4 linked regions of the Homo sapiens genome follow. The protein of the gene in region 1 interacts with the protein of each later gene in a pairwise test. Each region holds a gene or a part of one and is shown in the gene's direction. Other genes may lie near its edges. The genes, in order: SEC22A, RASGRP4, SLC14A2 and TMEM71.

What was found.
Region 2: the proteins of SEC22A (region 1) and RASGRP4 interact in binary tests that used the Homo sapiens proteins (3 or more experiments, as listed by UniProt).
Region 3: the proteins of SEC22A (region 1) and SLC14A2 interact in binary tests that used the Homo sapiens proteins (3 or more experiments, as listed by UniProt).
Region 4: the proteins of SEC22A (region 1) and TMEM71 interact in binary tests that used the Homo sapiens proteins (3 or more experiments, as listed by UniProt).

What each region holds. Positions count from the first base shown.
Region 1 is NC_000003.12:123,267,599-123,274,926, forward strand, and holds the end of SEC22A (vesicle-trafficking protein SEC22a), read left to right. Parts: intron 1-3,923; coding exon 3,924-4,124; 3' UTR 4,125-6,538; downstream 6,539-7,328. UniProt on the Homo sapiens protein: May be involved in vesicle transport between the ER and the Golgi complex.
Region 2 is NC_000019.10:38,422,702-38,431,130, reverse strand, and holds the start of RASGRP4 (RAS guanyl-releasing protein 4), read left to right. Parts: upstream 1-4,911; 5' UTR 4,912-5,039; coding exon 5,040-5,062; intron 5,063-8,429.
Region 3 is NC_000018.10:45,667,239-45,674,872, forward strand, and holds part of SLC14A2 (urea transporter 2), read left to right. Parts: intron 1-594; coding exon 595-784; intron 785-1,110; coding exon 1,111-1,239; intron 1,240-2,067; coding exon 2,068-2,260; intron 2,261-5,661; coding exon 5,662-5,809; intron 5,810-6,444; coding exon 6,445-6,579; intron 6,580-7,634.
Region 4 is NC_000008.11:132,722,268-132,729,901, reverse strand, and holds part of TMEM71 (transmembrane protein 71), read left to right. Parts: intron 1-1,590; coding exon of another isoform or gene 1,591-1,653; intron 1,654-1,915; coding exon 1,916-2,104; intron 2,105-7,634.

The sequences.
Region 1 (7,328 bases):
GAAAACTCAAGAGGAAAAGGAAAGCCTATTGTATTTACCCATATTTTTGCATACCATGTCCTTTTTTCTTTCCCAATGTTTCAAGATTCCTTCTTTTTAATTGTTTTCTTTCTATTTAGAGAGCTTCCTCTAACCATTCTTTTATGGTAGATCTGCTAGCAGCAAATTATCTTAATCTTTCATCTGATAAATGTTTTTATTTTCCTTTTATTCCTAAAGGATATTTTTGTTGAATACAGAATTCTGGATTTGGCAGTATTTTTTTCTTTCAGCACTTGAGAAATGTTCTAGTTTTTTTCTGGCCTCTGTGGTTTCTGATGAGAATCCCACTGTCTTGTTACCGATGAGAAATGAATTATCTTGTTACTGTCAAGTGAAAGTGGGTGTCCAGAGTCCCACGTGTTCTCCACTGATATCACAATAAGAGGGTAGAGGAGGGATTCATTGCCATCTAGTGGGAATGAAAGTCCTGGCTTCTACTTGCCTTTTCTGAAGCCATGCTGAAGGGTTAAAACATCTGCTTATAATGTTCTAGGCTCTCAACATTTGATGGTGTGGGTATGGGTGGGTCACAGGGGTTTTTTGTGTGATGTTTGGCTAGAGGATAATAGTTACTGTTTAAAAGTTTTCTGTCTTGCTAAGGTGCCTCTTTCCTGGTCTTTTACCAGAGAGAGCAAGATGTTATTGAGGGTCTTTTTTGTTGTTTGTTTTGATATGCATGCCTTGGCATTTCTAGTTGCCAGCTTCTTCAGCTCCAAGTCTGGGATATATGAAGCAAAAAAGAAAACTCAGAGAACCTACCACTGTGGCATTCTTGGATCTCAAGATTCTTTATTTGTCTGCTTTTCCTCCACAGTTCAGAGTCTTCTTATGCTTGTTTTACATATAATGTCCAGTGTTTTTATTTGTACTTAGTGGGAGAAATAGGGAAAAGTGTGTCTACTCCATCTTCCCAGAAACAGAAGTCCCTGAGCCGTTGTTTTTAAAGTAAGTTACAGACATCATGATATTTTTTACCTTAAAATACTTCATGATGTATCTTCTAAGAATACAGACATCTGTCTACATAGCCAGGACTTCATATCACATCTAAGAATTTAACATTGATACAATATTATCTAATATATGATTCCTATTCAGATTATTTCTGTTGTCTCCAAAATGTTTTCTGTGGCTATATTTCTCCTGATCCAGGATTATGCATTTCATTTGATTGTCGTGTACCTTTTGATCTATGATACAGTCTCCCAGCCTTTTTGTTGTTGTTCTATTTTAGTTTGGTTTTATCTTTCTTAACATTGACTTTTTTAAGAGTTCAGGCAAGTACCACAATCTGGATTAGTCTGTTACTCGTGATTATATTAAGGTTAAATATTCTGGCAACAGTGCTGTATAGTATAATATGCTGAATATCTCTCATTGCTTCAGTCAGGAAATGTGATAAGTTTGATCATTTGGTTAAGATGGTGTCTACCAGATCCCCATTGCAAAGATATCTTTTTCTTCTTTGTAATTAATAAGTAATATGTGGGGTAGAGACCTATTATTTTAAAAGCCTTGGAAAACCTTGAATTAAATATATGTGTGTGTGTGTGTGTGTGTGTGTGTGTGTGTGTGTATATATTACTGGAAATGCTAGCTCATTTTTACAGTAGCATTCCAAGCAATAAATATAGATAAAAAATGGAAATATAAAATCACCATTAAGCGAACACCACAGTAATCATTGTTGCAGGCAAGAATCATTAATGGATACTAAAATTAATGAGCAAAAGTATGATGAGATAAGATATTCACATAATCTCAACTCCCTGCCCCCAAGACAATAATTGCAAAGGGAATAGATACCACCTTATTAAGTGATCTAATTTAATATGTAATAACATGTATTGCGTATCACCTCTGATATTCTTGCCAAAATTGTATAACCTCATTTCAATCTTGACAAAACATCAGACACACCCAAGTTGAGGGACATTCCTACAACATAACTGATTAATACTCTTCAAGACTGTCAAGGACATGAATTTTTTTTTTTTTTTTTTTTTTTTTGAGATGGAGTCTTGCTCTGTTGCCCAGGCTGGAGTGCAGTGGTGTGATCTCGGCTCACTGCAACCTCCGCCTCCCAGGTTCATGCCATTCTCCTGCCTCAGCTTCCCGAGTAGCTGGGACTACAGGCGCCCGCCACCACACCCGACTAATTTTTTGTATTTTTAGTAGAGACAGGGTTTCACTGTGTTAGCCAGGATGGTCTCAATCTCCTGACCTCGTGATCCGCCTGCCTGGGCCTCCCAAAGTGCTGGGATTACAGGTGTGAGCCACCATGCCTGGCCAAAAATTTTTTTAAAAAAAGATGGAGGAGCTGTTACAGATTGGAATATACATGACAATTAATGCAATACAGAATCCCAGATTAGATTCTGGACCAGAAAAAGGACCCTAGTGGGACAATGGGCAAAATCTGAATAAAGTCTGTAGATTAGCTAAGAGTATTGAATCAATGTTCATTTCCTGGTTTGATGATTATACTATGATTACATAAGAGGATAACGGGGAACAGGGTGAAGAGTATACAGTAAACAAAGCGTATACAATAAACTGTTTTTGCATCTTTAACTCTAAAATTGTTTAGAAAGAAAAAGCTATTTTTTTCTATTTTTTCAGTCTTATATGATGAAAATCACTGATAAATACTTCCAATTCATTTTGCTTGGATAGCAGTCTTCTTTTTAAGTAAACAGTCCAAATTTGCATAAGAACTAAACATATTTAACAGAACATTTCCACATTCTTTCTGCATTATAACAGACACTGGTGTGTCCTTCCCATTCTGAAGCCTGGACACAGTTTCTCAGAGAGACCTGGGCCTCTCTCTTAGACTTTGTGGTTCCTATACTTACCAGGTTGTGAATTTTAGACATCTTCTAGAAAACAGTTTATTCACTCAACACATTGAGCACTTACTATGTCCCAGGCACTGTTCTGGGCACTGGAGATAAATGAGTAAATAACAGTAAAAAATCTCACCCCTCATGAAATAGATTCTGTTGAAAGCCTATGGATGACAAACAAAATAAGCACATTTCTCAAGTATGTTTATAGTATGTTGTGGAGAAAAATAAAGCAGTAAAGGGTGAATGCCAGGATGGGCAGGAGCGGTGAGAGGGGGAGTACTTTCTTGACCGTTTCATCTAAAATAGCACCCACTATCATTCTTACTCCCTATCCCTTTTTCCTGCTTTCTCTTTTTCAAGACATAACTGTTTGATATTATATATTTAAAATACATTTATAATTCTTCCCCATTAAAATTTAATATTTATATGAACAAGGGCTTTGTTTTACTTACAACTGAAGAACAATGCCTGACTTGTAGCAGGCCCTGAGTAAATATTTGTTGAATGAATTCTCCCTCAAATGTTCAGTCAGATGCTGTACCTAGCATAGTTCCTTGTACTCAGTGGGCGACTAGTAAAATGTTGTGGATTTTGTTAATACTCAGACTCAGGTTATATTAAGAGTCCATTTTGTAGAATAGCTTGTATGTGCTTTTTTGTATTTTCCTGGGTGAGAATGGAACACCCGCAGACCCTGGGAATGCTTCTTAGTTGCCTGTCACCATGGGGAATTTGCTCAGCCTGTTTGCAAGGAAGTCATTCCATTGTACTTCCATTTAAAATATGATACAAAATGCTTTTCTTCTGAAAAATGAAAAACTTAAGAGGAAAATCTATTTCCCTTTCAAACTGTGAAACTTTCATAGCTGAATGTCTTAGATATATGCTACATTATCTTATCCCTAGATAAAAAATAACCTTATCCATTCTTATATTTTACTCTCTGACCTGTTACAATTTTATATTAGAAACATCTGTTTCTTTTCCTGTAACCCTAATCATCTTTCATTTTTATATTTTGAACAGTGTTATTTACTTGTCTACTACACCGGCTGGCGGAATGTCAAATCTTTTTTGACTTTTGGCTTAATCTGTCTATGCAACATGTATCTCTATGAACTGCGCAACCTCTGGCAGCTTTTCTTTCATGTGACTGTGGGAGCATTTGTTACACTACAGATCTGGCTAAGGCAAGCCCAGGGCAAGGCTCCCGATTATGATGTCTGACACCATCCTTCAGATCTATTGCCTTGGCTTCAGGGGGATAAGGAGGGAACATATCATAACTGCACTGTGATGAAGAAGCTGTTCCCCACAGAGGAGAAGCTCTGCTTTCTTTCTCTCCAACTTTCCTTTTTTAAAATCAGCATGATGTGCCTGTGAGCATGGAAGAGTCCTCTCAGAAGAATGTTGGCCATGAGACTATCATTCAGAGGAGGAGGGGATTTCTCTCTTCAAGGCCGTAACAGTGGAAGAACAGTCATATGCCATTGGAAGTCTTGGCCAGCAGTCCTGAATCCTTCCTGAAGAGTTCAGAAAATAGATGTGGTATTGCTCTGAGGACCAGGCAGGAGGAACTCTACAACCTGAGTTTGCCTTTGTGAGGCATTAGTATAGACCAAATAAAAAGCTGCAGAAATTGGAAAGTTTATGTTTTAAATAAATGACTGTGATAAATATCAGATTATTTGCACACTTATGGTACTACGAGTTTATAAAGTCCAAGATGGTGTGAAATTGGTTCTTTTTACTTTTATATTTTTGCTTGAATCTTAACTCTGGAAATCACCTGATGTAGAAGAAGACTGTGATGAGCTCGTCTGTGGAACATCACAAGTATCGAAAATACAGTAATGGATGTTTCCTTTCTAATCCACATTTATTGTTTCTTTTGAAATCACGTCTAAAAAATATGACTCACACTATAGCCGTTGTTTCCCAAACTTCAGTCTCTTTAGTACTACTTGTATTATTTTCTTAATATTTATCTTTTAAATTTTAAAGTTTTTTTAAAAAAATGAATCCTGCTCCAAGTGGAAAACCAGTATCAGTTTGCCATAAATAAAAGGTAACCACAAAATAAGTAAGATGAACACAAAAAATGTTGTTCAGTTCTAGCTAGAAACTAATGCCTAGAAAGGCTCCGAATCTTAGGCTCTTTCTTTGTGGCAGTGAGGGAGATGTTACCAGCACCAGCATGAGGCACTGTCTCTGGAATAGTCAGAGGATAAAAGGAAACTGTAAAGGGAATGACATTCTCACTGTGATTCAGCATTATTCTATGTTGTGCATCACTTAAAGACATGTTGTGTGCCACCAGTGGCATGGGTCCGCACTATGGAAATGCTTGACTGTAGTAAGAATCAGAAGGTGGCTTTCCTAGCAACTCATTATTTTATGGCTTTGAGGAATTAAGCCCCTAGTATCTGAGAGAACTTACTTGTTTTTTGATAACGTTTTAAAGATTGTTTAAGCAGTTATGAATTAATAATATAGGAAGCACAGTTGGATTCCACTAGCAAAATCTATAACTCTCATGGTTTTGGAAGTCATCTTCATGGGTGATTTTCCTTTGTTTTTTAAAGAAAATATTTCAAACAAGGAATTCATAGGATACTGAAATTTGATATCATCCAGAAAAACAGATCCCATTACATTGTAATTGTTGTTACTAGGCATATTTATTAAGTAGAGAAATAGAGGGTAAAAAGTTAGTGAACTGTCTTGTTTGCGTGAACCAGTATTTGTGGATATGTCTAGAACTGTAAAATCTTGCTTAACTAGAACCTTAGTCTGCACCCTCCTTTTAGGAGAATGAGGTAAAAGGAAGACAATAAGCTTATGATATCAGGGATTCATGTAAAACAGGAAATAGTAGTTGGCTCCAGTCTTCTCCTCTAACAAAAGTATGCATATTCTGAGAGATACCCCAAGGCATCACAAGATCCTGAATCATCAAAACACCATTGAATTGTGTTGGGCATTTTGTAGCCAGGAAAGTGAAGTGGTTCAATTTAGAAAGGGTTTCAGGCCAGGCACGGTGACTCAGGCCTGTAATCCCAGCACTTTGGGAGGCCGAGACAGGCAGATCACTTGAGACCAGTAGTTTGAGAATCAGCCTGGCCAACGTGGTGAAACCTCATCTCTACTAAAAATACAAAATTTAGCTGGGTGTGGTTGCGCGTGCCTTTAGTCCCAGCTACTCGGGAGGCTGAGGCAGGAGAATCGCTTGAACCCAGGAGGTGGAAGTTGGCAGTGAGCCAAGATCACGCCACTGTACTCCAGCCTGGCCAACAGAGCGAGACTCTGTCTCAAAAAAGAAAGGTTTTCTAAACTAATGGTTAAAACAGAATTTTCTTGTAAATAGGGAAGTTGGAGCATTCTGGTTGAGATTTTGCTCTGTATTGACACAGCTCGCACCAGTTTGGTTCAGGAGCTACCTCCTTGTCATTGAATTGACGAGTTACAATGTTTGGTATTCGGATACATTCAGCAAGAACACTTGAAAACTCCTCACCAACTATTTTTAAAGGCTTACTTTGTTTTTGTTTTTATTTTTTCACTGGCTATTTTGGATAAGAGGATGTTTACATCTTAATGTAAAAAAATGAAAACAGGTATAAATGTTTTATGTATAGAAATGTTTTCTTTCATTATTTGGTGCCTGTATCTCCGTGTTTATATCATTTCCCCACCTGTATCATTGCTGCCAAAAAAAGAACTTTGAATTTAGAAAAAGAAATTGGTGTAAAGTCCTGGCCGGGCACGGTGGCTCATGCCTGTAATCCCAGCACTTTGGGAGCTCAAGGTGGGTGGATCACGAGGTCAGGAGTTTGAGACCAGCCTGGTCAACATAGTGAAACCCCGTCTCTACTAAAAATACCAAAAAAAATAAGCTGGGCGTGGTGGCAGGCGCCTATAGTACCAGCTGCTTGGGAGGCTGAGGCAGGAGAATCGCTTGAATCCAGGAGGCGGAGGTTGCAGTGAGCCGAGATCACACCACTGCACTCCAGCCTGGGTGACGGAGTGAGACTCTGTCTCAAAAAAAAAAAAAAGTCCTTAGGCTCTTTAGAAAGAATCACTTTAGGCCTCCATGGTGTATGATCTTCTGTTTCTATTGCACTTCTAAGAGCAAGCCTGAGTTTACCTCCTCATAGTTTTGTAGCATAGGAGCAGTAGTAGCTGCCCTCACTCTAAGGGGGAGGACACAGAGGTGATCAGATGGTAATGACTTAGCCAGTTCACATAGCTAAGCACACACAACCCTGATCTAGTGCAGGGCTCTTCGCACTAGCATGGAACTAGTGAAGGTGACCAGTGTTATATTCAGGGAATATGACTGTTCTTGGTAAAGCCAAGGAGTTGAGGGGTTCTGAAATTGGTGAGTCCAGGCCTGCTGCTGGAGTATTTTATCCTAATAGGTGTATTTTA
Region 2 (8,429 bases), on another chromosome or scaffold:
ACTATATTGCCCAGGCTGGTATTGAACTGCTGGTCTCAAGTGATCCTCCTACCTCAGCTTCCCAAAGTGTTAGGATTACAGGCAAGAGCCACCGCGCCTGGACTCGCTGTCATTTTAATTTCCACTTCCCTGATGAGTTACCAACAATTTCTAGCATCTTCTCAAGTGCCTATCAGAGTTTTGGGTTTCTTTGTTATCTGCTCATTGTGATCCCTGCTCACTTTTTTTTGTTTTTTTTTTTTGAGACAGAGTCTTGCTCTGTCGCCCAGGCTGGAGTTCAGTGGCACCATCTCGGCTCACTGCAACCTCCGCCTCCTGGGTTCAAGCAATTCTCCTGCCTCAGCACCCCCAGGACTACAGGCGCATACTGCCACACCTGGCTAATTTCTTTTGTATTTTAGTAGAGATCGGGTTTCACTGTGTTGCCCAGGCTGGTCTCGAACTCCTGAGCTCAGCCAATCCGCCTGCCTTGGCCTCCCAAAGTGCTAGGATTGCAGGCGTGAGCCACTGTGCCCAGCCTAATTTTTGTATTTTGAGTAGAGACGGGGTTTCGCCATGTTGGCCAGGGTGGTCTTGAACTCTTGACCTCAGGTAGTCTACCCACCTCGGTCTCCCAAAGTGCTGAGATTACAAGCATGTAATCTTACATTATAGGCGCAGGAGCCACTGAGCCCGGCCATTTTTCTATTATGGTTGCTGTCTTTTTCGCTTGCTGATTTGCAGCTGTTCCTTTTATATTCTTTTTTTTTTTTTTTTTTTTTAGATGGAGTCCCATTCTGTCTCCCAGGCTGGAGTGCAGTGGCTCAATCCCAGCTCACTGCAACCTCCACCTCCTGGGTTCAACTGATTCTCATGCCTCAGCCTCCCAAGTAGCCGGGATGACAGAGCAATACCCACTACCACACCCTGCTAATTTTTGTATTTTTAATAGAGACGGGGTTTTGCCACGTTGGCCAGGTTGGCCTCGAACTCCTGATCTCAAGTGATCTGCCCGCCTCAGCCTCTCAAAGTGCTGGGATTAGAGGCATGAGCTACTGCACCTGACCTATATTCTAGATATTAATATCTCATTGATTTTTAAATATTGCAAACACCTTTTCCCCTTCTGTCATCTGACATTTGTCCCATGGTGTCTTCGTTAAAAGAAAATCTGCCTGTAATCTCAGCACTTTGGGAGGTCTAGGTGAAAGGATCCCTTGAGCCCAGGAGTTTGAGACCAGCCTGGGCAACATAGCAAGACCCCATCTTTAAAATTTAAAAGAGAAAGAAAGAAGAACAGCAACAAAAGAAGAAAGTCTGTATTTGCATGTTATCATGTCCATCATTTTTCTGCCTTAGGAGTTTCTGTGGTTTGATTCAGAAGTCCCTTCCTTTGTAGTCATCAGCACGGGTATTGTGGGTATTCTTGGCCAGCCCGAGGACTAAGGCTGCCTGTGTACAGTAGAAACAAGTGCCAGGATTTCTGACCTCCTCCTTGAGGCTTTTCTGGGTCCCCAGGGCCTGGAGACACTGCCACACTACGAAGTCTCTGCTCAGCCAGGATTGTTAAGTCACATTCAAGATGCAGGTGCTACAGGAGATGGTCTGAGAGAGTCAGACAGAACACCATGAGGCCAGGGGGAGAGAGGGTGAAAACGGGCAGGAAGAGAGAGTCTGAAGCTATGGTAACATCGCGTGATGGAAAAACTAAAGACGGCGAGTTCAGTGACTGTCTAAATGTTCTGCATTGGAAAAAATATACATCCACGGTTCTTTCTTTTAGTGAAAAAAAAAGTGGAAAAATATACTTCTGAGAGAACGATTTCAATGAATTGCTAACATGCTATGTTTGGTAGAATCACAGTAACTACTATGACCCATTTATTCCACTCCTGGGTACTGCCCTACAATATGGTACACTCTATGTTCATCAAAAGTCAGATGCTCAAATAGTCACAGCAGCCCCAACCTGGAAACAACTCAGATGTCCATCACAGGAAAATTGATCAATAAATCACGGAGGCCGGGGACAGTGGTTCACGCCTGGAGAGTCAGCAATTTGGAGGCATAGGAAGGACGATTGCTTGAGCCTAGGAGTTCGAGATCAGCCTAGGCAACAAAGTAAGACCCTGTTTCTACAGGAAAATAATAAAAAAAAAATTAGCAGAGCACAGTGGTGTGCACTTGTAGTCCTAGCCACTCAGGAGGCTGAGGTGGGAAGATGGCTTAAGCCCAGGAGTCCGAGGCCGCAGTGAGCTAGGATCTCGCCACTGCACTCCAACCTTGGTGACAGAGGGAGACCCTGCTGTGGAGTCTTAATTAAGAAAAAAGAGTCAGGTTGGTAGGACCAAATAAAAATAAAAAAAAAAAACAGAGAAGCTATAAGTTTGTCTTTTTTTTACAGTCTAGGACATATAGTCCTCTTGTATAGATAACTCACTTAACTTAAAATGTTTTAGTGTCTAGTTATTACCAGACTCTAGACTGATGAAAAATAGAACTTAGTGCTGTGACTCACGCCTGTAACCCCAGCACTTTGGGAGGCTGAGGCGGGTGGATTATTTGAGACCAGGAGTTCAAGACCAGCCTGGCCAATATGGCAAAACCCCGTCTCTACAAAAATTAGCTGGGTGTGGTGGCACACACCTGTGATCCCAGATACTGGGGAGGCTGAGGCAGGAGAATCGCTTCAATCGCAGAGGTTGCAGTGAGCTGAGATCACGCCACTGCACTCCAGACTGGGCGACAGAGCAGGACTCTGTCTCAAAAATAAAAAAAAAAAATAGAAGTTAGCATGCCACCAGCCCGCTTAGTCACTATCCACAACACCTATCTCTAAATAAATAAATATATATATATAAGTCATGGAATTGTCACATAATGAAAGACTATATGGAATTATTATTATTATTATTATTATTATTATTTTGAGACAGAGTCTCGCTCTGTCGCCCAAGCTGAAGTGCAGTGGTGCAATCTCGGCTCGCTACAACCTCCTCCTCCCGGGTTCAAGCGATTCTCCTGCCTCAGCCTCCCAAGTAGCTGGGATTACAGGCACGCACCACCACACCTGGCTCATTTTTGTATTTGTAGTAGAGATGGGAGTTTCACCATGTTGGCCAGACGGGTCTCGAACTCCTGACCTCAAGTGATCTGCCCATCTCAGCCTCCCAAAGTGCTGGGATTACAGGCGTGAGCCACCGCGCCCGGCCAAAAAAAGGAATAAATTATAACCAAATATGATAACATGGAAGAACTGCAAAGACAAGACGTGGAGAGAAAGAACCCAGATTCAATACAGGAGTCCATTTTTATCCAGCTCAAAACAAGACAAAACTACTGCGCCAGACTTCGGGCGAGTGGGGATCTGTGGGAATTCGTGCTGGGAAGAAAGACAGGGGGCTTGTGGAGGGTGAGAATGTTCTGTGTCTGGATTTGTATGAATGTCACACAGGTTTGCTCAGTTGGTGACATTTCATCAACCTAAATACTTAATGATTCGTGATCTTTTTTGTACTTCAATTTAAAAAAAAGTGTCGAGCATGACACATTTAGGTAAAAAGAAAAAAATGCACACTCAAAAGAAAAGTCTGTTTCTAGGAGCACATGTTTATATGATGTGCTTAAACGCACAGACAGCAGTTTGGACGAAACTCGACAACGTGTCATATTGGTCACACCCTGCTTAAGAAAGGCAGGGGATGGGGAGGGGCTTCCCCAAGGCTTTACCTCCATCTCTAATGTTTTTTGATGTGTGTGTGTGTTTTTTTTTTTTGTTTTTTGTTTTTTGAGACAGGGTCTGGCTCTGCCACGCAGACTGAAGTGCAGTGGCACCATCATGGTTCACTGCAGCCTCGACCTCCTTGGGCTCAAGCAATCTTCTAGCCTCAGCCTCCTGAGTAGCTGGGACTACAAGTGTGCATCACTACGCTCAGCTAACTTTTTTTTTTTGAGACAGAGTTTCGCTCCTGTTGCCCAGGCTGGAGTGCAATGGCGCGATCTCGGCTCACGGCAACCTCCGCCTCCTGGGTTCAAGCAATTCTCCTGCCTCAGCCTGCCGAGTAGCTGGGATTACAGGCATGTGCCACAACGCCTGGCTAATTTTGTATTTTTAGTAGAGACGGGGTTTCTCCATGTTGCTCAGGCTGGTCTTAAACTCCCAACCTCAGGTGATCCGCCCACCTCGGCCTCCCAAAGTGCTGGGATTGCAGGAGTGAGCCACCACACCGGCCTAACGTTTTACATTTTTTGTAGAGACGGGGTTTTGTCACGTTGTTCAAGCTGGTCTCAAACTCTTAGACTCAAGCGATCCGCCTGCCTTGGCCTCCCAAAGTGCTGGATGACAGGCGTGAGCCCCTGTGAGCCCCCGTGCCTGGTCCGGTATGTAATTTTTTTTAAGGTAACAGTGGATTGTGTGAGGATTAAATGAGTTAATATTTTTAAAGTCCTTACAGCAGTGTGTGGTACACAGTAGGTGCTATGTGGAGGTTTGTTACAATAAAGTCAGAAAGTGAAAATGTTTTCCAGGGTACAAATGGTATCACTTAAACTAGGAATAAGAGACGCCTATGAAGAAATATACAAAATACTATGTCTTGTGAGTTTCCATTCAAACCTTCATGAATTATATATATGAATATGTCCTTCTAGACAGACAGACTTATCTTTTTGAGTGAGTGTGTGTGTTTTTACATAAATATCAGTCATGCTTTAAAAAGAAAAGCCCCTTCTTTTATTGAAGTATGACAGTGACGGGTCTCGACACCGAAAGATGGGGGAGATAGAGAGCCCGCCGGGGAGCTTGAGGGTGGGAGAGCCAGCGATGCCGGAAACCTCAGCAGAAGGGATCCCCGTGTGGGGGAGGGGGGCCTTCGGTCTCTCCCCAGCCTCTTCCTTCCCCCTGGCCTGAGGGTGGGTGGGGAGGGGCAGTTCCTCTTTCCTTCCCAAGCACCGAGGAGGCCCCAGCTCCCTAGGGGCTGAGAAGCTGGAGTCCTGGGCAAGGGGAGGAGCTGAGCCCTACTCTTGCAAGACCCCCGGCCTCCTCACCCCACGCGGGAAGCATGAACAGAAAAGACAGTAAGAGGTGAGAGGACCCTCCCCAGGGAGCCCGGCAGCACCCTGAGGCCTCCCTCTGCATGGGAGGGCTGGGGAGATCACTCGCCAGGGTGGCAGGATTCCTGACTTCTTTGGGATCAGGCGCAGGGGGGCCAGGTGGATGCTTCAGGGAGTCTGGAGCCAGCTACGGCTGCAGTCGCTTGTATGTGGCATCTGTACCGTGTTGTCCCTGGAGTTTGAGCTGCTCCGTGCCCCTTTTCCACTCCTCATCACCCCACCTCCATCCCTGGCCTGGGCTGAGTGTCTCTGCCCTCCCTGGGGGCTTCCTGGTTCCCCATCCCCGTGGACTGGAAACTCCAGGCTCCTGCAGGGCCTGGCCCAGGAGAGGGGAGTGTGGCACAGGGCAAGGCGACTCCCCTGCCTCTTAAACCACTCCTGGCTGTTCCAGACCCCTACAGGGGGCTGCAGGACAGGGCCTAGTGGCTGGCTGTGCGGCCGGTTCTGGAATGGGCTTCATCTCCTGGGCAAGCTGGCCCTTCTGTCCCCACAGAGGCAGATGGTGGGTGGCTCCCTAGCCTGGGTAACTCCTCCTGCCACCCCCAGCACCACTCTGATGGGCAAAGGGCTTTCCTCCCCACCCAGCAGTTTAGTGGTAGACTCCTGGCTGCCTAATTTCCTAGCTGTGTGACCTTAGGTAAGTCACTTAACTGCTCTGTGTCTCGGGTTTTTCTTCTGTCAGTAGAACAATCATATCCTCTACCTCGGAGAGGCCTGTAAGTACTCAATGAGACACTCTAGACCAGTGGTTCTCAAACTGGAGCGAGCCTCAGAACTGTCTGGAGGGCTTGTAAAATACAGGTTGCTGGGCTTACCTTTAAAGTGTTTGGTTTTTTTTTTTTTGTTTTTTTTTTTTGAGACGGAGTCTCGCTCTGCCGCCAGGCTGGAGTGCAGTGGCACAATCTTGGCTCACTGCAACCTCTGCCTCCCGGGTTCAAGCGATCATCCTGCCTCAGCCTCCCAAGTAGCTGGGACTACAGGTGTGCACCACCACACCCAGCTACTTTTTTGTATTTTTAGTAGAGATGGGGTTTCACCATGTTGGGCAGGATGGTCTCGATCTCTTGACCTCGTGATCCACCCACCTCGGCCTCCCAAAGTGCTGGGATTAGAGGCATGAGCCACCACCCTTAGCCTTAAAGTGTTTGATTTTGTAGGTCTGGGTTGGGACCTGAGAATCTGTATTGATATCCAGTTCCCAGGTGATGCTTTTGGTACTAGCTGGGTGCCCACACTTAGGGAAATGCTGACTTAGTTAGAATGCTCCTTCCTTAGCCTAGGACATATATAATACTTTAAAATGTCCCTTCTAGTAACGATGGCTCATGCCTCTAATCCCAGCACTTTGGGAGGATAAGACAAGGAGAACTTGAAGCCAGGAGTTCTAGACCAGCCTGAGAAATATAGTGAGACCCCCCCCCCCATTGACACACACCCAAACACACACACAAAATTAGCTGGGTATGGTCGTGCACACCTGTAGTCCCAGCTACCTGGGAGACTAAGGCAGGAGGATCACTCGAGTCCAGGAGTTCAAGGTTACAATGAGCTTTGATTGCACAACTGTGCTCCAGCCTGGGAGACAGAGCAAGACCCTGTCTGAAAAAGGGTAGAGGTGGGAGCCTGGCGTGATGGCTCACACCTGTAATCCCAGCACTTTCAGAGGCAAAGGTGGGAGGATCAGTTGGGCCCAGGAGTTTGAAACCAGCCTGGCCAACATGGTGAAACCCCATTTCTACTAAAAATACAAAAATTAGCTCGGCGTGGTGGCACGTGCCTGTAGTCCCAACTACTTGGGAGGCTGAGGCAGGAGAATTGCTTGAACCCGGGAGGTGGAGGTTGCAGTGAGCTGAGATCGCACCACTGCACTCCAGCCTGGGTGACAGAGTGAGACCCTGTCTCCAAAAAAAGAAAGAAAGAAAGAAAAAAGAAATCCCTGGAGAAGGTCCAAGGACTATCCTCATTTTTCCTTCGAGGAAATTGAGCCCCAGAGAAATTAAGTGACTAACACGAAGTCACAACAGCTGGCAAAAATTTCTGGATTCTACTTTCGTCTGAAGCTTGGATTCAGCAGCCTCCCTGCTCCCACCATCCTTGTCTCTCCATTACCCTCTTCCCCTATCAGGAACAGCAGCCTCTGGGAGGCACCAGGCAGAGGGAGAATTATTATTACTATTATTACTATTATTATTATTATTATTTTGAGACTAAGACTCGCTCTGTTGCCCAGGCTGGAGTGCAGTGGCACGATCTCGGCTCACTGCAACCTCCGCCTCCTGGGTTCAAGCAAGTCTTCTGCCTCAGCCTCCTGAGTAGCTGGGATTACAGGAGCCCACCACCACGCCTGGCTAATTTTTGTATTTTTAATAGAGATGGGGTTTCACCATGTTGGCCAGGCTGGTCTCGAACTCCTGACCTCAAGTGATCCACCCACCTCAGCCTCCCAAAGTGCTGGGACTACAGGCGTGAGCCACTGTGACTGGCCTCTCTTTTTAATTTTTTTATTATTATTTTTGAAACAGAAATCACTCTGTCACCCAGGTTGGAGCACAGTGATGCAGTTCCGGCTCACTGCAGCCTCCACCTCCTGGGTTCAAGCGACCCTCCTGCCTCAGCCTCCTGAGTAGCTGGGATTACAGGCGCCCGCCATCACGCCTGACCAATTTTTGCATTTTTAGTAGCGATGGGGGTTTCACCATGTTGGCCGGGGTGGTCTCGAACTCCTGGCCTCAAGTGATCCACCCACCTTGGCCTCCCAAAGCTTTGGGATTACAGGCGTGAGCCATCACACTGGTCCAAGAGCCTTGCTCTCTTGAGGGCTGTGGGAGGAAGGAGGGGAGGGTGTTAGAGACCAAACGGGAGCCCTGAGGAGGCAATTCCTGAAGGCAGGTCCTCCCATGCCTCTGCCTGGGGAGGACAGAAGAGATTCCAGGGGTCTTCTCCCGAGTCCCTGGTAGGCCAGGAGTAATCCTGGGATCTGCCAAAAGGAAGTCTCTTCCAGGATGCCCTGGAAGCAGTCAAGAGGAAGTTGGGGGCAATGCCTGGGGAAGGAGTTCTTATGATTCCCTGAGGGGTCTTGAGTGGTCCCAGGGGTCTTCTACTGTGATTCCCTGGGAGATTCAGAGCAGTCCTGAGCGGCGGTCCCCAGGCTTTTTGGCATCAGGGACCAGTTTTGTGGAAGGGGGTGGGGATGGTGTGGGGATGATTCAAGTTAATTACATGTATCCTGTGCTTTATTTTTATTATTATTACATTGTAATATATAATGAAATAGTTACGCAGCTCACCATAATGGAGAATCAGTGGGAGCCCTGAGCTTGTTTTCCTGCAACTGGATG
Region 3 (7,634 bases), on another chromosome or scaffold:
GGAGTTTTGCTGTTAAAACAGACATACAGCCTCTTGAACTATAAATAGCAATACATGCAAGAGTGTGAGCTCATGAGCTCTCATTTCTGAACAGAACACTTCTGCTATCTCAAATATCCCATCTGAATATTGCAGACAGGTGTTTTTCGCATTGGGATTCTAGAGCCAGCATTCTAGAAAAACGCCATCTGGATGGTTCATGGGAGAACTGTGTCTACCATGCCAATAGGTTCTCTTTAGCAATCTTTCCAGAGCTCAGCCCATGGGTTTAATGCCCTCTATGCAGCAAGAACATGTTCTTGAAAATTCATGGTACCACCACAGGGGTCAGAGGCAGCTCAGGGCACCTAATCCCCCCTGCCAGAAAAACAACCTGGAGGTCACATCTGGCTGGTGATGGGTCTCAAGAGTTTTCTTGGCAGTCAGATGCTCTCTTGAGTTCCTTGTTTACCATCTTTGGTGGCAGGTGACAGCAGGTGGCTGGCTTCCTGCAAACCCACTTCGGATATCCAGATTCCCTCACACCCTCCATCTGCCCACCCAGGGCTGCCCACACTGAGCACTTGCCTACTTCCTGCCCCGGTTCCATTTCAGACAAGTCCCCAGTGTTCCAGTTCTTTGACTGGGTCCTCCGAGGCACATCTCAAGTGATGTTTGTGAACAACCCCCTCAGCGGCATCCTCATCATCCTCGGCCTCTTCATCCAGAACCCCTGGTGGGCGATCTCAGGCTGCCTGGGTACCATCATGTCCACCTTGACAGCCCTCATCCTGAGTCAGGACAAGTAAGTCCCAGAGGCTCAGGGTCCAAACATGTAGCCAAGAAGTCACTCCCCATGGGGACCATTCTTCCTCTTCCCAGCTGAGAAATCCTCAAAATAAGGACACTGACAACTAAAAATGACTGTTCCCTGGTTATTTTGTCATAGCAACATATTTCTAGAGAAATATGAAGGATTCATAGGGTTGTCTTCCTTCCCCACTCCCAGAAGGGTGGTCTATTTGAAGGCGTGTGTAGTCAGGCCCCAGATAAAAAGAATCTGACTCAATAGGAAAATGTAAAGGGCCCTGGGGAAGCCCCTGCTCCACCTGACCCTCCCTCTCCTGCCAGGTCGGCCATCGCTGCAGGATTTCACGGCTACAATGGGGTGCTGGTGGGGCTGCTGATGGCCGTGTTCTCAGACAAAGGTGACTACTACTGGTGGCTGTTGCTACCCGTCATCATCATGTCCATGTCTTGGTAAGTTTGCTTTTGAAGGGTTGTGGGTTCATATCAATGGCCACCAACCTTTTCATCCCAATCCCATGACCGTCTGTCTAAACGTGATATTAAAGTGGCATGTATTTAGCTTGCACATCAGAAATGTCCACTGGACTAATAACTAAGTTTATACCATGGTAGCCCCATGCTAGGTCTATACACAGTATCCCATTAGCGACCACCCTTTATTATTCTTTTAAGATCTAAATGGTTTTTGGTCTCACCCTGCCAGAGTGCAGAGAAAGAAACTGAGGCCCACATTGGTTAAGAGCTGCACTATAGGGTCCTGTCAGTTTCTGGAAATCTTTTCAACCCTCCCCTACCCCGGCTTTTCTAAATCCTTGGGACCCCTGAGCAGACCAAGACCACCTCCCAGGGTAGGCTGAAGGCCCAGCCATGGGGAAGCCCTCAGTGCCTGCTCTACCCCATGTTGAGAAAACACAGGGCACCCTGGCCACAAAGCCCATGCACACAGCCACTCAAAAAAACATTTGTTGAATGAATGTGATTCCCTCCCCTCGGCCTCCCCAACCTGATGCCTGGGGATGGAGCTATAGGATTCCTGAAGGAAGTTCTGAGACTGCCTGCCTTATATCTTCTTCTGAAGTTGAGTCTGGGTGCCCCACCCTGTCACTGTGCAGGGAGGAAGAGGCCCAGGGAAAGACCTGCTCAGGGCCAGTCAGGCTCCAGAGAATACCCAGCAGGCTGCTTTTCTCTAGGAAGGCACAGGGAGCCCCCACTGCAGCACAGTCTAGTGTTATGACCAGGCGGCTTCCTGACCAGCATCTCTCATGCTTCTGCCATCAGCCCCATCCTCTCCAGTGCCCTGGGTACCATCTTCAGCAAGTGGGACCTCCCAGTCTTCACACTGCCCTTCAATATCACTGTGACTTTGTACCTGGCAGCCACGGGCCACTACAACCTTTTCTTCCCCACAACGCTGCTGCAGCCTGCATCCGCCATGCCCAACATCACCTGGTCAGAGGTCCAAGTGCCCTTGGTACGTATCATGGAAGGAGGAAGGGCAGGTCTGTCCACACTGGATGTTACTGGCATTTGCATATTTTGCACATCAGAAACATCCACAAGTAATAATTTTTAACAATTACACAGTACCAAGCATTCTACATATATATCTCATGAGCTGCCATCCTTTTCTACTTCTGAGAGCAAAAAGGGCTAGTTTTGGTCTCACTCTATGATAGCACAGAGAAGGAAACTGCGGCCACGTTAAGAGACCTGCCTTAGGTCTTACAGCCAATTAGGGAGGAGCAAAGTCAAGACTAGAACTTCAGCCTCCTGACTTCCAGCCTGGGCTCTTTGTGGATGTTTAAAAAGTCTTTTTGAGGCTTACAGCTTGCGTTGTGCATTTTCTTTCATTCAATCACACGGAATCATTCAAGTCGTACACATCATGCTACCATCTATTGGCTTAAGAAGTCGTTGTTCCAACCTCCAGAGTTTATTCCCTTCACTCACCAAAGCTGGGCCTGGTGGCACATGCCTATAGTCCCAGCTACTCAGAAGGCTGAGGTGGGAGGATCGCTTGAGCCCAGGAGTTTGAGGCTGCAGTGCGCTGTGATTGTGTCACTGCACTCCATGAGACTCTATCTCCAAAACAAAAACAAAAACCCCAAAATCAAATCGTTTTCTTGCTAAATACTGGTGCTTCTCAGTGTAAACTCAGGGCTTTTTCTACTACACCATGCTGTTGGTTTTAAAGCACAGGTGTTCTTTCATTAAGAAACATATAACAGAGCTTTTAAAGTTTTTTTTAATAAGTATTCTGTATATAATCCTGACCTCTGGAAGTCAGCCAAGGTGATTAATAAGAAGCTGCACTCACAGTATTAAGTCAGCCTAGAGAAATGTGCCTATTAGCCAGCCACCTTATCTAACAAGGCACGTTTTCTCCAAGGCCCTCCTACTTTCCGTTACACGAAACGGCTCCACAGTCTGGCGCTCACTCTGAGACTTCGTTATTGGCAACTCATCATCTGACCACAAAATCACTTGGGCTTGTTGAAGGAACTTTCTCTAAAATAATGATGCCTCGTTTCTCTTAGCTTTCCACAGTAAGCAACAGCGTGGTGTAGTAGAAAGAGCCCTGAATTTACACTGAGAAGCACCAGTATTTAGCAAGAAAACTATTCGATTTTGGGGTTTCTGTTTTTGTTTCAGAGATAGAGTCTCATTCTGTCACCCCGGCTGGAGTGCAGTGACGCAATCACAGCTCACTGCAGCCTCAAACTCCTGTGTTCAAGGGATCCTCCCACCTCAGCCTTCTGAGTAGCTGGGACTACAGTCATGTGCCACCAGGCCCAGCTAATTCTTTATATTTTTTTGTAGAGATCGCTCTTGTCATTGTTGCCCAGGCTGGTCTCAAACCTCTGGCCTCAAGCGATCATGCCACCTCAGCCTCCCAAAGTGCTGGGATTACAGGCGTGGACCATTACACCTGGCTGAGAACTATTTGTGTTAGTCGGATCCTTGATCATTTTGTGTGTGTGAGGACCTTCTTGGACCAGAAACAAGAAAAGGTGCTGTGCTGGCAGTTCAGCTTCTTAAGCTGCCCGTTCTTAGTCTACCCAATTAATATCTTTTGGAGACAAACTTGCTCTAAGTGGCATGCTATGGGGAAATGATGTCAGAAAATGCAGATTTTAGATATTGCATTCTATATGTCACAGTTTCAGTTGAGAAGAAATTTTGAAATTTTATAGAAATGGAAAAAAATGAATAATCCTGTACAAACACTTGAGACCCACCACCACCACCACCACCACTCCACCAGTGTTCCAGGAAAGAAAAATTCAATTTTGTGGCATTATTCTTTAAGAAGTAACTTTCTGGCCAACTGAATGGATTATGACAATGACTCATATGTTTTGTCTTTTTGACCTTTAAAATTAGAGCCTTGAGTTTCTGATAAATAAGTGGTGAATTTCAGAGGGATTGTCTAAACTTCCCAGCAATGTTGAGTCCCCACGGCTTCCTCTGCTCTTGTGACCACTGAGAGCCCTCTGAAGGGTGCAACTGGCTGAGGACAAAACTGCCCATGCTGCTGCTTCTGTATGTGCAACTCTCTCTCGCCTGTCCCCTTTGCCCTGCATGGTGAGGCCAGAGCCCTCATTCTGTTCTCTGCCCTGGGTAACAGGAGACTAAGCCCAAAGCCTAACCCACTCAGCCTGTCTCCTGTACACACTCACTGTGGCGTGAGGGCCCCCGAGCTGCAGGATCTCCCTCCCCGGCCACGCGCAGAGGGAAGAGTTCTCTAGAGAAGAGCGTCCTTGCCTTAATCTATATACAGGGACTCGCCCCAGGACACTGCCTCTCCTCAGCTTCCTGCCCATGGGCCTTGGCTAGACCCTCCAAAACACAGTCCCTGTGGCTGGGGAAGCCCGCATTTCCAGGATCCTCTTCCCAAACTCTCGGACCTTTGTGCAGGTGCCCACAAGGCACCAGACTTTTTCAAGTGTTTTTCCATTCACAGACAGGCCCCACCAGCCCCAGAGATAGATGGAGCACGGAATCAAGCAGGGTGCCCTGGGGGTTTATTAATCAAAATAGCAGATGCTGGGCGATACTACCTTCTCCTGGCCGCTCCTGTAGATACTAGTCGAGTTCCTCCTCCAGACCTTACTAACAAAATCACACCCCAAACATGTTGTACTTGAAAACACACAGGGCCATTTTTTTGTCTAATATTTCACCTTCTCATCATCTTTTTAGCTTTAAAAAAAAATCATGGCCAGGCGTGGTGGCTCACGCCTGTAATCCCAGCACTTTGGGAGACCAAGGCAGGCGGATCACCTGAGGTCAGGAGTTCAAGACCAGCCTGATCAACATGGAAAAACCTCATCTCTACTAAAAATACAACATTAGCCAGGCATGGCGGCATATGCCTGTAATCCCAGCTACTCGGGAGGCTGAGGCAAGAGAATCTCTTGAACCCGGGAGGCGGAGGTTGCAGTGAGCCAAGATCACGCCATTGCACTCCAGCCTGGGCAACAAGAGCGAAACTCCATCTCAAAAAAAAAAAAAAAATTCACAAAGGGTTTTTAAACCCCAACTTTGATCAGACATATATTACTTTTCTAATCAATAGTACCCTACCTTGAAAGGTTTTCAGTTTCTCTTCCCTGAGGGATAAATGCCTCACGCTCATATTTCTAAATAAAGGAAACTCAACATCCTAATCCATCAGTGTTCTAAGAACTCAAGATTAAGATAATAAAGCTTTTGTTCCTGTTAAAGTTAACCTATTTGAATAGAAACAAAAATCCTGGACATCCATTGCAAAATGTTAGTGGGAAGGGTTCAGTGCCAAGTCTCTTGCAGCCAAGGTCAAGTTGTCTCTTTTGCCTCCATAATGAGCATGTAATCCTGTTATGCCTACAGCTTTTGAGAGCCATCCCCGTTGGAATTGGCCAAGTGTACGGCTGTGATAACCCCTGGACTGGAGGCATCTTCCTCATAGCTCTGTTCATATCCTCACCTCTCATTTGCTTGCATGCAGCAATTGGATCCACCATGGGGATGCTAGCAGGTCTGTGTCCTCACTTCCCTGGGCTGTGAGGGGGTTAGAGCCTGGGGCCAGCTCCAAATAAAATGGTGACTCTCATCTTCAACACTCCACCTGCTGATTCCTGTGAACTTTCCCTCCTTCTGTTGTACCCTGTTTCTCCGTTTTTGATCTAGCCCCTTTATCCTCCCCTGAGCCACAGCTGCCCTCAAGAAAGGCTTTGGTGTTAGTCATTCACACCTTAGTATAAATTTAAAGTTTGGGGGAAGTTTCTTCCAGGTATATTTACATGTTAAGTGATCTGCAATGACAGCAAGAAAGATTCGTTCTCCATTAGAGAATTAAGGTATCGATGAAGGAGGAGAGGTTCTCTTTCTTGGCAGGGGAAGGATATTCTCTGGACTGTTTAAATCAGACTTCTGTCCTTACTCAAAGAATCTCTTCAACCCATGCCAGCTTAACTGCTAGTATTCATGGGACTCTATGGCCATTTGTTTCCTTTAGATGTTTTTTCACAGAATAAAGCCAGAAGTCCTTTTTGTATAACTACCTAAGAAGATAACTGGCTCCGGGCTTTGAGGACTGTGGTAGGTTTCAGGGCCAGCAGATGGGCCCCATAAGACCCTAGACCCAACCCTGATGCCTGCCTTCTGTCACAGCACTCACTATTGCGACGCCCTTTGACTCCATCTACTTCGGCCTGTGTGGCTTCAACAGCACCCTCGCATGCATAGCGATAGGAGGCATGTTCTACGTCATCACCTGGCAGACGCACCTCCTCGCCATCGCCTGCGGTAGGTACTCCCCACAGAGGATTTGTTTCCTTTATAAAAGGCTTTTTACATAAAACTGTTTTTTTATGTTTTTTAATGGTTATTTAGTAATTAATAGATTAAACACTATTTTCACTGAATACTCAACGTTCAGTCACATGAAGACGGTGGTGGAGGTTTGATTGTTGTTCCTGGGCTGTCTCCTGTGATTGCTACTCTCCTGGCGGGGGTTGGAGCAAACTGGCTGAGCAACTCTTATGCAGGTTACTCGTTACATATGGAATTGGGTGATTTACGTCTTCTACAGCGATTCACCTTAAGCATTCAAACATTAACCACAGACCCTTCAAATGACTCCTCTTTGTTATATATTTGTTCAGAGTCCCAGGAAATTAGATCGACTGTAACAAGTTGGTAGATTTGTATGTCCTCATCCTTGAACATCCTTTATTTCTTGATGTTATATGACTGGAAACCAAACAAAACTCCTTTTGAGCAGAACATTTAAAACAGAAGTTCTATTTCAATACATCTGTAGACTCTGTGAACATTATCTATATAAACTTATTTTTAAAAATAAATTTATAATAAAAATTTTCCAAATATTCTTGCTCGGGAAGATGTTCTGGATCAGCTATGGCCACATATTTGTTTCCTTAAGATAATTTGTAGATATATTTTCTTTTGCATTTTATGACAGTGACTACGAACTCTAAACAAGATACGAAGGGTAAAGCTGCTGTCTTTTTCATTTGCTCTTCTTAAAATTACTTTTTGCTACACCAACCTAAGGCCAGCACACTGTAGTTACTTAAAAAAAAAAAAAGTAGCTGTCATATTGCCCAAATAAAAGGTAGCCATTCACCTAACACCCACCACAAAGTAGGCACTTTAAATACGTCATCTCTACCTTAACACTAATTCTCAAGGTTGGTATTACTATTCGTATTTTGCAAACGAGGAAAAGTTGTGTCAAAGAGCAAGACTAAGGTGAGACAAGGGAGACACGTGGGATGCAAAATTTAAGGAGGTGCTTACTCTCAGGGCCAAGCAGGTGATGACCCTGACATATCCCC
Region 4 (7,634 bases), on another chromosome or scaffold:
CTACATAGGCCAAAACAGATAAGCTTTCATGCCTTCTCCTAGAACTAGTGGGCAGATTTTTTTTCTTAGCCATCCTTTCATTGAGGAAATAGCATTTTGAGTCCCTACAGAAACTCGGTTTTAATTTTCTGCCTCTCTTGAGACCAAGGCCTTTTTTCTGTCCCTAATGTCATTTAATCCATAGACCTTTGACTACTATGACTTCTAAGGCCCTCTCCCCACCCCTTTTGGCAGCTTTGTCCACAGCGTATGCTTAGAGTTATAGGTTTCCCTGGCTTGGCCTTTGGGAATATTTCCTTCTTTTGAGCTCAGCTATAAAGAAAAGTACATTTGTTGGGCATGTGCAGTCCCTTTTAGATGTCAGCTTAGAAAACACCTACATCCCAAAGCAGGACTCTGGCTACTCTTTCTGAGTGGCTTTGCTTCCAAGTCAATGAGCTCTAAACTGGCACGAATTCTTACCCAAGATCATAAGAGTAAAGTTAAACCCTGGAATGTGACACAGACCACTCAAGACAGAACCAAGAGAATTCCTAGGTACATTTATGCCAGGTGAGCCAAATGGGAGACTTCCAGTGGTTGAGTCAGAGGTGTGGTGCTTAACTATCCCTGTGGTTGAAAGGCATTCTTAACACATTCATCCTTTCCAAGGAAGCTTTGGCTTATAGAGTTTTGGATCCCCTAATCTCTGACTCAAACTAAGAATCAAGGATTAAAATTCATTCCTTGGTGACCTCACATTGAAGACACCAAGTGTTATGAGGAATCATCTTAGCATGTTTGAAACTTGAAGTTGCATGCATGCTTTTGCAATAAACTTGACTTTTTGTGAGAATGTCAGGCTAAGTTTAGGGCAAGTAAAATATATTTATGTATGAATCATCATAGGAGAAAATGGGTGCATGTTCTTGAAGCTATGTGTGTATGAAATAGCCTCTTTGAATAAAAAAATTTAAACAGATGGTTGCTATATTTTATCTAGGCATTTCAATGTATTTTATAGAGGCAGAATTTCCTTCATGACACTTATCACAAGATATTTTCTTCCCTGCCACTCAGCAATATGTAAGGACAGAGATGTTGTTCTAATTCACCACTATATCCCAGCAGCTAGGTCAGTTTCTAATATATAGTCACATTCAATAAATGTTGAATGAATAAATGAATCAGAAGTAGAAAGAGTTGACTGCTGTAAAGTTTGGTCCTATAAAGATGTGAGGTTCATATACTGACTACATATCCTTTAAATCCATCTATACAAACTTCAGTGTCATTGAAGATGCCTCTGGCCTTTGTTTATCTCTGCACTGAAGATATTTCTCTTCAACCTTCAAGTATGAAGACAAATTGAAATGCCATTTGAAATGGTTTGCCTGTGTCCTCACCCAAATCTCATATTGAATTGTAGCTCCCACAATTCCCACATGTTGTGAGAGGGATCTGGTGGGAGGGTATTGAATCATGGTGATGGGTCTTTCTCATGCTGTTCTCATGATAGTGAATAAGTCTCATGAGATCTGATGGTTTTACAAGGGATTTCTCTTTTCACTTGACTCTTATTCTCTCTTTACCTGCCACTATCCATGTAAGATGTGACTTTGCTCCTCCTTGCCTTCCACCATGATTGTGAAGCCTCCCCAGCCATGTGGAACTGTGAGTCCATTAAATCTCTTTTTCTTTATAAATTACCCAGTCTCAGGAAAGTCTTTATCAGCAGCATGAAAACAGACGAATACATCATCTCATCTCATCCAAAAATCCTTCTCCCATCCCACTATGGTAGTGCAATACCGTATCAATATTACTATTTTTGTGATTATTAGGAACTAACTGTGCATTGAGCAGTCACTGAACACACACACACACACACACACACACACACACACACTCACACTGAACCCCTCTGCTTTTTCAGCAGATGATTTAGACTGTTCTTCTCTGACTGATGACTGGGAGTCAGGGAAGATGAATGCAGAGTCTGTGATCACCTCCTCTTCCAGCCACATCATATCTCAGCCTCCTGGAGGAAACTCCCATAGCTTGTCTCTTCAGTCCCAGTTGACAGCTTCTGAACGTTTCCAAGAGAATAGTTCGGATCATTCAGGTGAGTTCAGGTGTTTTAAATATTTGCCACACCCAAAGAATTCTTCCTTTCAGAGCCTGAGAATGACTTGGAGATGACTAAAATGCAGTTAGGAGCTGGTACCAACCTGTGCGAGGAAGGGAGGACATGGGGCCTCTGCCAAAGCCCAGGTGACCCTTTGCAGAGGAGATGACTGCCTTTGGGTGTCATGTTAGAGGCATCAGTAACTGGATCTGCAGTGTTTTACTTAAAAAATATTCAGAGACCGGGCACGGCAGGTCAGGCCTGTAATCCCAGCACTTTGGGAGGCCGAGGCGGGCGGATCACAAGGTCAGGAGATCAAGACCATCCTGGCTAACATGGTGAAACACTGTCTCTACTAAAAATACAAAAAATTAGCTGGGCATGGTGGCGGGTGCCTATAGTCCCAGCTACTCGGGAGGCTGAGGCAGGAGAATTGCATGAACCCAGGAGGCAGAGGTTGCAGTGAGCTGAGATCGCGCCATTGCACTCCATCCTGGGTGACAGAGCGAGACTCCATCTCAAAAAAAAAAAAAAATTCTGAGAATATTTTGTAAAATGTTAGGCTTCAATAAAGCAAAGTGGAAGATACACAGATGTTTGCTATTTTAATTCTTAGCTGTGTATTGGACATACTACATAAGAAGGCACAGTGGCTCACACCTGTAATCTCAGTATTTTGGGAGGCTGAGGCGGGTGGAACACCTGAGGTCAGGAGTTTGAGGCCAGCCTGGCCAACATGGCAAAAGTCCATCTCTACTAAAAATAGAAAAATTAGCTGGGCATGGTGGCACATGCCTGTAATCCCAGCTACTCTGGCGGCTGAGACAGGGAGAGTCACTTGAACCTGGGAGGTGGAGGTTGCAGTGAGTCGAGATCACTCGAGATCATACCACTGCATTCCAGCCTGGGTGACAGAGTAAGACTCCAAAAAAAAAAAAAAGAAGAAGAAGAAGAGGAAACAACAAAAAGAACATCCTTTAATGCTATGCTTCTGACAAGGAAAAGTCAAAAGATAATAAAGGCATTGGTATTTTCTGGCAGGAGCAAAGCTGTAATAAATTCAACAAGCATGTCCCTTAGTCTCTGGTTTGCTAATGTCAGATTAAGCATGTTTGGACATGGTGCTGCACCAAGGTGAAAGAGCCCACTCTGTCATTGGCTTGCTGAGATTAAAAGCCCAGATCCCTACTCCTTAGCTATAACTCAGAAGCAGTTTACCAAACCCTCTCAAACTTCATTTTTATCTCTACATGGAGAGGATCATAATTCCTACCTTGTCATGACTAAAATAACTCATGTAAAGTACTTAGCATACTATGTCATGTCTATTGAATACTCAGTAAATGTGAAGTTATTGTTACATAACATTGAAGTTAAATGGAAAAAATATTTTCTGTTTATTTGCTTTCAAAAAATCATAAATATTCACTTCACTGGCCATCACTCTTCTAGTCCTGAAGATCAATATGCTTTGTACATTTTGTTCCTAGTGCAGCTACTAGATAAGTGTTCAAGGGTTTTTTTTGTTTTGGTTTGGTTTTTGTTTTTTTATAGTTCCCTTTCCAGGTGTTGAAATGACAGGTTATCAACACCTAAGAAGGCTCAATAGCCACCTCCTCCAGGGAGCCCACCCTTCTTGGTGCTCCCCTAGCTCCCAGGACTTCTCTTTCTCATGCCCATTATTTGCACTGTCACTGCATGTTTGCCTCTGTGAGCTCCTTAAAGATAAGCACTAGGTCATTGTCATCTGTGAATTCCAAAATGCCCACATAGGCACAGAGATGATGCTTCATTACTGGTGGACCAATTAATAAGTGTGCTACCTCCATTTTACACATAAGAATATTCAGATTCAGACAGGTAAAGTTAACCTTTGTACTCTTTGCCAAGAGTTTTGTAAGAACAAATATAAGCTCTTTGCTGGGTCTGGAATCTCTCTCCCACCTGCTATACCTGGGTGGCCTCCTACTCTTCCTCAAGTCTCAAATTAAATGAGACCACCTCTATGCACCTTCTCTACCCCCTTCTGGCTGGTGGAGGTAGCGCTTCACTTCGCCTTGATTCCCTAGCACTCTATATATCACTATAGAAACTGTTTATTTTCCTCTTTCTCACTAAGCTATGAAGTCCTGGGTGGACAAGGTCTCCATCTTCCATTAAGCCCTTCACATGTAGGTATTGCATGTGTGTTCTTTTCCAGGTGCCAAAGATATAGGCAGATACATCAGTTGTATCAGTTGAAGATTTTTGAGTTCCAATGGATGGAAACCCAACTCAAAGTGGATTAATCAATAGAATTTATTGGCTCATCTTAATGAAAATTCCAGGCTTACAGTGCAGGATCCTGGCATTCTCTGTCTTTTGTTGTCTCTTCTCTTCTGTGTCTGTGTTACTCTTTAAAAGGTTGTACCAGACCAGCCTGGGTGACATAGTGAGACCTTGTCTCTACAAAAAATACAAAAATTAGTCAGTCATGGTGTCTCATGCCTGTAGTCCCAGCTACTCAGGAGGCTGAGGTGACAGGATCGTTTGAGCCCAGGAGTTGGAGACCAGCCTAGGCAACATGGTGAGACCCCATTTCTACAAAAAATTATCTGGGCATAGTGGTGCATGCCTGAATTTCCAGCTAGCTGGGAAGCTGAGGTGGGAGAATCACCTGAGCCTAAGAAGTCAAGGCTGCAGTGAGCCAAGATCATGCACTGCACTGCAGCCTGGGAAATAGAGTGAGACCCTGTTAAAAAAAAAAAAGAAAAAAAAGAAAAGAAAAGAAAAGAAAAAAAGGCCCTCCATACATGGTGGATCCTGGTGGCTCTGTGCCTACACCTTTCCAGTTTCCAGTTCTGCAGAAAGAGATTACATCTGTCTAGGCTAATGACAAGAGGCCAGTAATTGAGTTTTATTGGTTTTGGAAGGGCATGTTTCACATGAACAAAACTTTGTTGATAAGTATGTGTGCTGCAGAAAGTCAGGGACCCTGAATGGAGGGACTAGCTGGAGCTGCGGCAGAGGAACATAAGTTGTGAAGAGTTCATGGACATTTATCACTTCTCTAATAATGCTTTCATAATTTGTTATGCCTCTCTTTATTTTAATCTCTTAATCCTGTCATCTTCATAAGCTGAGGCTGTACGTCACCTCAGGAGCACTGTGATGATTGCGTTAACTGTACAAATTGATTGTAAAACATGTGTGTTTGAACAATATGAAATCAGTGCACCTTGAAAACCAACAGAATAACAGCGATTTTAGGGAACAAGGGAAGACAACCATAAAGTCTGACTGCCTGCGGGGTCGGGCAAAAACAGCTATATATTTCTTCTTGCAGAGAGCCTATAAATGGATGTGCAAGTAGGAGAGACATCGCTAAATTCTTTTCCTAGCAAGGAATATTAATATTAAGACCCTAGGAAAAGAATTGCATTCCTGGAGGGAGGTCTATAAACGGCTGCTCTGGGAGTGTCTGTCCTATGCCGTTGAGATAAGGACTGAGATATGCCCTGGTCTCCTGCAGTACCCTCAGGCTTACTAGGATTGGGAAACCCCAGCCCTGGTAAATTTGAGGTCAGACCGGTTCTCTGCTCTCGAACTCTGTTTTCTGTTAAGATGTTTATCAAGACAGTATGTGCACCGCTGAACATAGTCCCTTATTGGGAGTTTCTGATTTTGCCCTGTCCCTGTTTCCTCAGAAGCATGTGATCTTTGTTCTCCTTTTTGCCCTTTGAAGCATGTGATCTTTGTGACCTACTTGCTGTTCTTGCACCCCCTCCCCTTTTAAAATCCTCAATAAAACTTGCTGGTTTTACGGCTCAGGTGGGCATCACAGTCCTACCAGTATGTGATGTCACCCCCGGCAGCCCAGCTGTAAAATTCCTCTCTTTGTACTCTTTCTGTTTATTTCTCAGACTGGCTGACACTTAGGGAAAATAGGGAGAACCTACGTTGAAATGTTGGGGGTGGGTTCCCCTGATATATGTGAAACTCCGAAAAGCTTGAAAGGAATCAAATGCTAGGAGGAAAGTCAGAAAAAATCAGTCACTTCACCTAAACTGTGTACCAAGAGAGGGGGAGAGGTGATTCCTCAAGGAAAATATGAGCACTGTCCCCAGAGAACAGGAAATCAATGCTATTTTCTCAATGAGCTTGCAGTTTAGTGGGGGAATATTGAGAAATATTATAGAATTTTTAATTCCATGTGAAAAGAGAGTTAGCAGAGATATGAACAAGGTATAATGGGAGCACAGGGAGGGAGCAGCTAAGGGCCAAGGAGGAGCCAGTAGAATCAAGGTAGGCTTCCTAAAGGAGGTTACACCTGAGCTGAGCTGAAAAAGGTATTCAGCAAATGGCAACTTAAGGAAGGAATCCATGAATAATTCATCCCAAATCACACAACTCATATCTTTGTAGATCTCAAATCTAAACCCATTCATCCTTCAGTATCCAAGTCTAGTGATCTTTGCAGTTTTTCAAGCTAGATTTGTTTCTGAGGAAATGTTTTCCAAATTCCACATGAAATCAGGGGAGGCTAAGAATAGAAACACACTTTAGAAGGATGGTTGAGTATTCAGTTGAACCCACAATAACTGAATTCACAATGTACATGAACAACTGTACATTTGCAGTGACATAATTTACTACTGTGATATTTTGAATTGCCAATCTTCAGCATTCCACCCGCATTATGGGCTAAGTAGGTTTTGTTAGCTGACTCAATCCTCATTCATGGCATAAATAGCAAAAATAAATGCATTCATAACATAAAGTCATTCCAAGTTTTAAACAACTGTTGCAAAATTGAGCTTTTGAAGCATTTGGCAAAAATTAAGTTGAGGTCTGTTTATATTCTCCTTTAGGTTTTTTATGTGGTAATCCTCAAATCAGCTTTAATTTATTTAAGGTGATTAGAATAATACTGAGGTTCATGATTGAATTAACTCTTATGCTTATAATTGCTGGATAATTTGTAGTTTCTACTGTGGCTTGGCAGTACTGAAATATTGTACTGATTGCAAAGAGTTTTCAAAGACAAATATTTCATAATATATGTTCTCATTTTTTGTCTTTAGAGACTTCCATTATGCAAAGTTGCAATTGTCTTTCCCTGCCCACTTCAGACAAAATGTTATGTTCTGTCTAGATGTGGTTTTTAAATCTTGGCTGTGACACCTCATAGCTATGTGACCTTGGACAAGTTCATCATTTCTCTTAGTCTTTTTCTTCTCTTTGCAGAACTAAGATAATGGCATCCACCTCACAGCGTTGTTGTGCTGTTTAAGTGAACTAACGTATACAAGCTCTTTGTGAATTATAAGGCACTTTACAGATTTTAGACATTATTATTATCACAATGACAGAATTAGATTTCTTACATTATCATAAACTCTACAAAGCCTTTCCCCAACATTAAATCAAAAGGCAAGCCCTAAACTGTGAAAATAGCATAGTCTTTTATTTTATAGTGATTGAAGAAAGTAATTATTTGCAGAAATTTTCTAATGACAGCCCTGTATAACAGTAGGTAATTTTATCT